2 linked regions of the Homo sapiens genome follow. The protein of the gene in region 1 interacts with the protein of each later gene in a biochemical or structural test. Each region holds a gene or a part of one and is shown on either strand. Other genes may lie near its edges.

Region 1 (3,500 bases):
AAACTCCTGGCCTCAAGTGATCCTCCTGCCTTGGCCTCCCGAAGTGCTGGGATTATAGGCATGAGCTACCATGCCCAGCCCCATTTTTCAAATGAGAAAACAAAAGTCAGGCAAGGTTAAGCAATTTCTCCCAGGCCTTACAAACATTTCATAGTATCAGAGGTGGCATCTGAACCGAGACAGCCTGGCTGCAGAGTCCAAGTTCTTTCCCATGGTGTGATCTGAGCTATGATCATGCTGCATATCTCAGGGATGCTTCTCTACTCAACAAACATCTACTGAGCATCTGCTGGGCCAGGCACTGTGCTGGGCTCTGGGGACATAGCAGTGAAAAGGACAGAGATGACATTCTGATGGCAGAGACAGACAAACACATTATAAAGTAAGGTCCTTTTGGGCTGGTCACGGTGGCTCAAGCCTGTAATCCCAGCACTTGGGGAGGCCGAGGCCGGTGGATCACCTGAGGTCGGGAGTTCGAGATCAGCCTGACCAACATGGAGAAACCCCGTCTCTACTAAAACTACAAAAAATTAGCCGGGTGTCGTGACGTGTGCCTGTAATCCCAGCTACTCAGGAGGCTGAGGTAGGAAAATCGCTTGAACCTGGGAGGCAGAGGTTGCAGTGAACCAACATTGCACCATTGCACTCCAGCCTGGGAAACAGAGGGACACTCCATCTCAAAAAAAAAGTGAGGTCTTGAGGTCTTTTTGGACTAAGTGTTAGGAGTTAATACAACCACAATAGAGAGTGATTTTAATGACGGTAACACAAGGGACTCACTGTGCCAAGCAGTATTTTTATTTTTTATTTTTATTTGTTTATTTTTTGAGACGGGGTTTTGCTCTTGTTGCCCAGGCTGGAGTGCAATGGTGTGATCTCGGCTCACTGCAACCTCTGCCTCCCGGGTTCAAGTGATTCTCCTGCCTCAGCCTCCGGAGTAGCTGGGATTACAGGCATGCACCACCACGCCTGGCTAATTTTTTGTATTTTTAGTAGAGTCGGGATTTCTCCATGTTGGTCAGGCTGGTCTTGAACTCCCAACCTCAGGTGATTTGCCGCCTCGGCCTCCCAAAGTGTTGGGATTACAGGTGTGAGCCACTGCGCCCGACATTCTTTATAATTTTTAACTCATTTCATCCTTATGTCCTCCCATCAGAGTGCATACTGTTATTTAGCCCATTTTATGACAAAGAAAGTGGCTGGCACACGCTTTCTTGAGTCTTCTGCTTTGGGGGTATCAAAACCTATAACTGGGCCAGAGGCAATGATCAGGCACAGAGAGGGTGAGTAACTTGCCCGCAGTCACACAGGTGGCGGAGTGTTGCTGGCAGAGGGAACAGCAAGTGCAAAGATAGGTGTAGTCACCAGAGACAGTGGGTATGAGGTTGTTTGAGGCTGAGTTATCCAGACATGAGTGGGTCCCCAGCAGGGGCAGCAGAGACAGCGGGGCAGGTGTGCTGGCTGGATAGACTGCTGCGTGTTTGTGTTCTAGGAGGCCAACGGTCCTGCTGATGGCTACGCAGCCATTGCCCAGGCTGACAGGCTGACCCAGGAGCCTGAGAGCATCCGCAAGTGGCGAGAGGAGCAGAGGAAACGGCTGCAAGAGCTGGGTGAGGGCGGGGCTGAGGCGGGGTTGGCTGGGTGGGCTGTGTGTGGGGTGGAGTGTGGGGAGTCCTCGGAGTGCATGGGATGCTGCATGCCTTAATGTGGGACTGGGCCGGTGCGGCCCTGTGGCTGCCTGGCAGGGGCCAGGGGAGGAGCGCGGCCGGGCCTGTGCATCCCAGCTGGAAAGCAGCCACTCATTCTCTTGTGGGGTCCTAGATGCTGCATCTAAGGTCACGGAACAGGAATGGCGGGAGAAGGCCAAGAAGGACCTGGAGGAGTGGAACCAGCGCCAGAGTGAACAAGTAGAGAAGAACAAGATCAACAACCGGTGAGAGGGCTGTAGGGACATGAGGGGGCCATGGGGACATGAGGGGGGCTGTGGGGACATGAGGGGGCCGTGGGGACATGAGGGGGCCATGGGGACATGAAGGGGTGGGGACATGAGGGAGCTGTGGGGACATGAGGGGGCCGTGGGGACATGAGACGGGCTGTGGGGACATGAGGGAGCTGTGGGGACATGAGAGGGGCTGTGGGGACATGAGAGGGAGCTGTGGGGACATGAGAGGGAGCTGTGGGGACATGAGAGGGGCTGTGGGGACATGAGAGGGGCTATGGGGACATGAGAGGGGCTGTGGGGACATGACTGAACACTGCCCAGTGCTCCCTGCCTTTGAGGCTCTGTCCTTCACGGTACAAGGTCTTCCAGGAAGGGAAAGGCCTGTTCTGGGAAGCTACCCTTCTGTCTAGGGAACTGCTGCATGCCAGGCTCTGGGGTAGGCACGGAGGAGATGGAGATAAGGAGGACCCAGCCTTATGTCCTCAAAGGGCGCAGAGGAGAAAAACACACATGTTCAACTAAGCTCAAATACAGTAGGGCCCTCTGCACGAAGGCCATGGAAGCAAGGAAACAGGTCAGGGAGAGACCTCTGTGTCTTGGGACTTGGGCTTTGGAAGATGACTAGGAGGAAAAAAGGGAAAAAAGGGCAGGAGGTAGGGGGGCATTCTAGACCTGGGTACGAAGAAAAAAATGTGATGTATTAGGCAACAGGGGGCCAGGGAGCGGTGGGAGAGAAGGCAGGAACCTGTGGACTCACACTGTAAGGGCCTTGGCTGATGAGTTGGGCAGTGACATGGGCAGTGGGGAGCCACTGAAGGTGTTTGAACAGGAGTAACATGATCAGGGATGAATTTTAGAGAAGGTGCTGGGGCCAGGGTGAAGGTCCCCATTCTCCTGTTTGGGGCTGTGGGTCGTTGCTGAGCCTTCCAGAACTATGCTTCCTAACATTTCTCCCACTGGAGGTACTAATGCTGTCTCTCTCTCTCTCTCTAACCTTCTGCCTGCCTGTCTGTCTTGCCATCTGCCTTCCCCCACCTAACCCCTTCCCTCAACCTTTCCCTCAAGGATCGCTGACAAAGCATTCTACCAGCAGCCAGATGCTGATATCATCGGCTACGTGTACGTGTCTGTTTTGCTTCTCTGTTGGGGGAGCTAGAGAGGGAATGGCCACCACAGTTTCTTGAGTTTCCTGCTTGTGGGATATAAATGAGTGTGGCTGGGCTCGGAGCAATGGTCAGAACAGGAGGCAAATGCCCTGGTGGGTGCAGGCAGCAACCACCTCCCTCCCTCCAGTGAAGTGGAGGCTGCTTGGCTAAATCAGAGCCTTGCAGGATAAAGGCAGAGAAAGGAATGTGCTTGCCACTTATTCCCATGTGGGAGGGGCAAATGGCAGAGCACCCCAACTCCCTCCCTCTGTGATGTCTCTTGGTGGGTGTGTGGGGTGAAGGGTTTTTTGTTTTTTGAGATGGAGTTTCGCTCTTGCTGCTCAGGATGGAGTGCAGTGCTGCGATCTCGGCTCACTGCGACCTCCACCTCCTGGGTTCAAGCGATTCTCCTG
Region 2 (3,500 bases), on another chromosome or scaffold:
GGCCCTGCCTGGGCCGTGAGGGGCCCTGGCCCCCACCCATCCCCACCCCGCACCTCCAGCTTGATCTTCTCCAGTTCAGAGCGGAGCATTTCCACCTCTCTCTTCAAGCTCTCAATCTGGAGGTCCCTGGGGACAGAGGTCCTGGGGTTCAAGTTAAGTCAACCAGAACAGTCAACAGACCCAGCACAGGAACCTGTCTCCTCCTCAGTGGCCACTCAGGATTTGGGCACCTCACGGGTTCATGTTCCCCACCTATGGCCTTTCCAGACAGAACTGTCCAGAGCACAGCTCAGCTGAGCCCGTTTCCAACCACCCCCAGCCCAGTCGGCTCCTCCAGCCCTCACCTGTCGTCCTTCACAGACCCATTGGGGGGTCCAAACGTCTGATCGAAGAGGTCAGCCACCACCTGCCACAGCAAAGCATGGTGACCCCACTCACCTGTGCCCTCCAGGCCGGGCAGTGGGCAAAGGGAGGGCTGGCCACCCGACACTCCCGTTGGCCTCATGCTGCAGCTGGAGGACTGGGGGACACGGGCTGGGCAGGGGGCTCACCACTGGCTCCCCCGCGGGGGGCCCTGTGCTGATCTCAATGAGATTCTCCGGCTCCTCATCTTCCGGGGCCTCCTCGGGGATCACCACCACCGGCTTGATGTGCTCAGCCAGGGCTGAGGCCCGCAGGAAGTTAGGGGGTCCCTGCAGGGGCGGCAGGTGGGACCTGCTCAGCTGTCCCCTAAGCAAGCCCTCCTTCCGCCATCTCCATAGCCTGTGTGGGGCCCAGCCAGGTGCCTGGGGTCCTCAAAGGGCCTCGGGGCCCTCTTGGGGGTGGTACCTCGGGCAGCCGGGGGATCTGGATGAGCCGCTTGAAGTACAGCATGTCGGAGGCTCTGCGGAAGAAGTTCCTGAGGCTGCAGAGATGGTGGGAAGTTCGGGTTCAGGAAGGGGCCACGGAGCCTCTCCCCCACCGGCCTCAATCCTGTCCCTGTCCCAGGCAGTACCTGTGAAACTGCTCGTGGAACCGGTCCCTGTGGCCTTGCAGGGTGTCCGCAGGGAGACCTGGAGGGTGGCACAAGTGTAACAGGACTTCTCTGCACACTGCTCAGGGGCTCACCTGCCCTGCCTTGTTCCTCCGTATGCTACAAACTCACAGATCAGAGATCACCTGAGACCGGGCCAGGCCCGCTCTCCCATCGGGATGGGGAGACCTGTGGGAGACGCTGTGGGAGGGCTCAGTTCAGACTGAGCTAGAGAAGGAAACAGCGAATGGAAAGGAAGGCGCTGCGGCCACATCTCACCTAACCCACACCTGGCTTCGGGAGGCACTAGCAAGCCGCTTTCACCAAACACGTTGGTCCCAGGCTGACACTAACACAGTGGTTCTCAAAGTGCGGTCGAGGGACGAGACCCTTTCAAGGGGTTGGTTAGATCAAAACTCTCCTAACACCCCAGACACCTTTTGCCTTTTTGCGCTTGCACCCCCAGGGTGCCTGGCGGGAGATTCCTGGGAGCAGCTGGGGCCTCCGTCTTGGCCGAGCCAGGCATTTAGTCGTAAAAATGAAAACCAAGCCACTCACTAAGTTTTTTGCTTGGTAAAGTAGTGGGTTTTTTTTTTTTTTTTTTCATAAAATATATGTTATTTCTATTAATGGGCAGTGGGTTTATTACTGCCATTTTTAAATGAATAAACCTCTAATTTTTCGATTTTCCTTTTTGACAGTGAATGTCTAAGCCATATAAACACAGCCTTCCGGGCCAGGGGTTGCCCTGGGCCACTCACAAGAGTGTAGCTTGAACAGGAGCTTGACCGTGTAGTGGTAGAGGTGGCTGCAGTCCTGGATGACCTGGATGAGGGGGGCCAGGCGGCACTGGCCTGAGGACATCTGGGATACGGCGATGGCCGTGTTGAGCTGTCGGAAAACTGTGCAAAAGGGGCAGGAGGAAGAACGTGAGCCCTTGGGAGCTGGGCAACCTGTCCAAGGTGGTCCAACTGTGAAGCAGGGCCCTAAGCCAGCTCCCACACACCAGTGTGCCCCCTGCCTCCAAGACGGGAGCCTCATGTGCTGGTGGCTGCCCCAGGTCAAGACCAGATGCTCCCATGAAGGAGGTCAACGGCAACAACAAGGTCAGGGCAAAGGAGCTCCCAGCCCAGCTCAGCAAGGGCTTCCAGAGACCTCCACCTGGGAGCCCAGGACGAGGTGCCCGACTGACAAGGGTGACGGATAGCTCCATGCCCACGGGCCTCAAACCCACGCTGAATGTTAGAGCAGGAAGGAGGCTCACGATGGAGCACCCCAAATGCCTAACTTTACAGATGTGGGAACAGGCAGGGCTTCTGCCAAGTAACACGGCACTAGGGTCACAGCTTGGCTCTGCACACCCCAAGTGACCCTGAAACCTCGCTTGCCCCCAGGGCCCATCTCCCCTGCCCCTGACACCCCCAGGGCCCGTCTCCCCTGCCCCTGACACCCCCAGGGCCCGTCTCCCCTGCCCCTGACACCCCCAGGGCCCGTCTCCCCTGCCCCTGACACCCCCAGGGCCCGTCTCCCCTGCCCCTGACACCCCCAGGGCCCGTCTCCCCTGCCCCTGACACCCCCAGGGCCCGTCTCCCCTGCCCCTGACACCCCCAGGGCCCGTCTCCCCTGCCCCTGACACCCCCAGGGCCCGTCTCCCCTGCCCCTGACACCCCCAGGGCCCGTCTCCCCTGCCCCTGACACCCCCAGGGCCCGTCTCCCCTGCCCCTGACAATCGGGCCTTGTATCAGAACTACCAAGTGGGAGGGACAAAGGACAAACATGAGGCTGCCTCCTCCTTGGCTGGCAGCTTCTCTGGGGCAGAGAGAATGACAAAGAGCAGGCAGCTGGCCAGCACGGGAGAGCGGCCAGACAGCCCCCGCTGCACAGACCTGTGCCCTGGCCCCTCAGGTCCTGCTCCTGCCTTGCCTGTGATGGGACCACTTGCAAATCTCTGCAGTGACAGGAGAGAGCCTGGGGGGGAGGGGCAAGAAGGAAGACACAAAGTGCCGCCCCTTGCCTTTTTAAAAAAGTAATCTCTAATTACATGTCATGCTAAGTATGTTTTCCTTGCAAAAAATTACAGCACACATAAAGTACTGCTTGGATCTTCAACACGTATGTCCATGCTGTTCGGCAATCTGCTTGATTTCACACAGTAGAATGTTTTCTAGATCTTCCCGGCCATCCCAGATTCGACACATCTCTCTTCCCACCACCCTCCGTTCTCTGCTCTGCACAGACAGCGAGACGCAGCCTCTGCTGAGGCATGTTTAGGACGTTTGTGTTTCTTTGCTGTTACAGGTCCTGAGGCAGGGAAGCCCCTGTACCTGTCACCTCTGCAGATCTGGGAATTTCTCCAGCAGATGCTGGTACACCCCATTTGTGCTTCATCAACACACCAGCGTCACCAGGTGGGAAGCGTGCCTGTGAGTGTTCTCCACTTCCCTCGTGGGGCCACTGCCTGCCCACACTGGCCTTCTCCCATGCCAGG

Evidence for each region. The genes of interacting proteins can lie anywhere in the genome.
Region 2: the proteins of CLTB (region 1) and HIP1R form a complex in vitro, tested with the Homo sapiens proteins (2 studies listed by BioGRID).

What each region holds. Positions count from the first base shown.
Region 1 is NC_000005.10:176,396,040-176,399,539, reverse strand, and holds part of CLTB (clathrin light chain B), read left to right. Parts: intron 1-1,492; coding exon 1,493-1,610; intron 1,611-1,821; coding exon 1,822-1,933; intron 1,934-3,007; coding exon 3,008-3,061; intron 3,062-3,500. UniProt on the Homo sapiens protein: Clathrin is the major protein of the polyhedral coat of coated pits and vesicles.
Region 2 is NC_000012.12:122,852,457-122,855,956, reverse strand, and holds part of HIP1R (huntingtin-interacting protein 1-related protein), read right to left. Parts: intron 1,915-3,500; coding exon 1,774-1,914; intron 1,053-1,773; coding exon 995-1,052; intron 905-994; coding exon 829-904; intron 693-828; coding exon 552-692; intron 407-551; coding exon 345-406; intron 127-344; coding exon 54-126; intron 1-53. UniProt on the Homo sapiens protein: Component of clathrin-coated pits and vesicles, that may link the endocytic machinery to the actin cytoskeleton. Binds 3-phosphoinositides (via ENTH domain).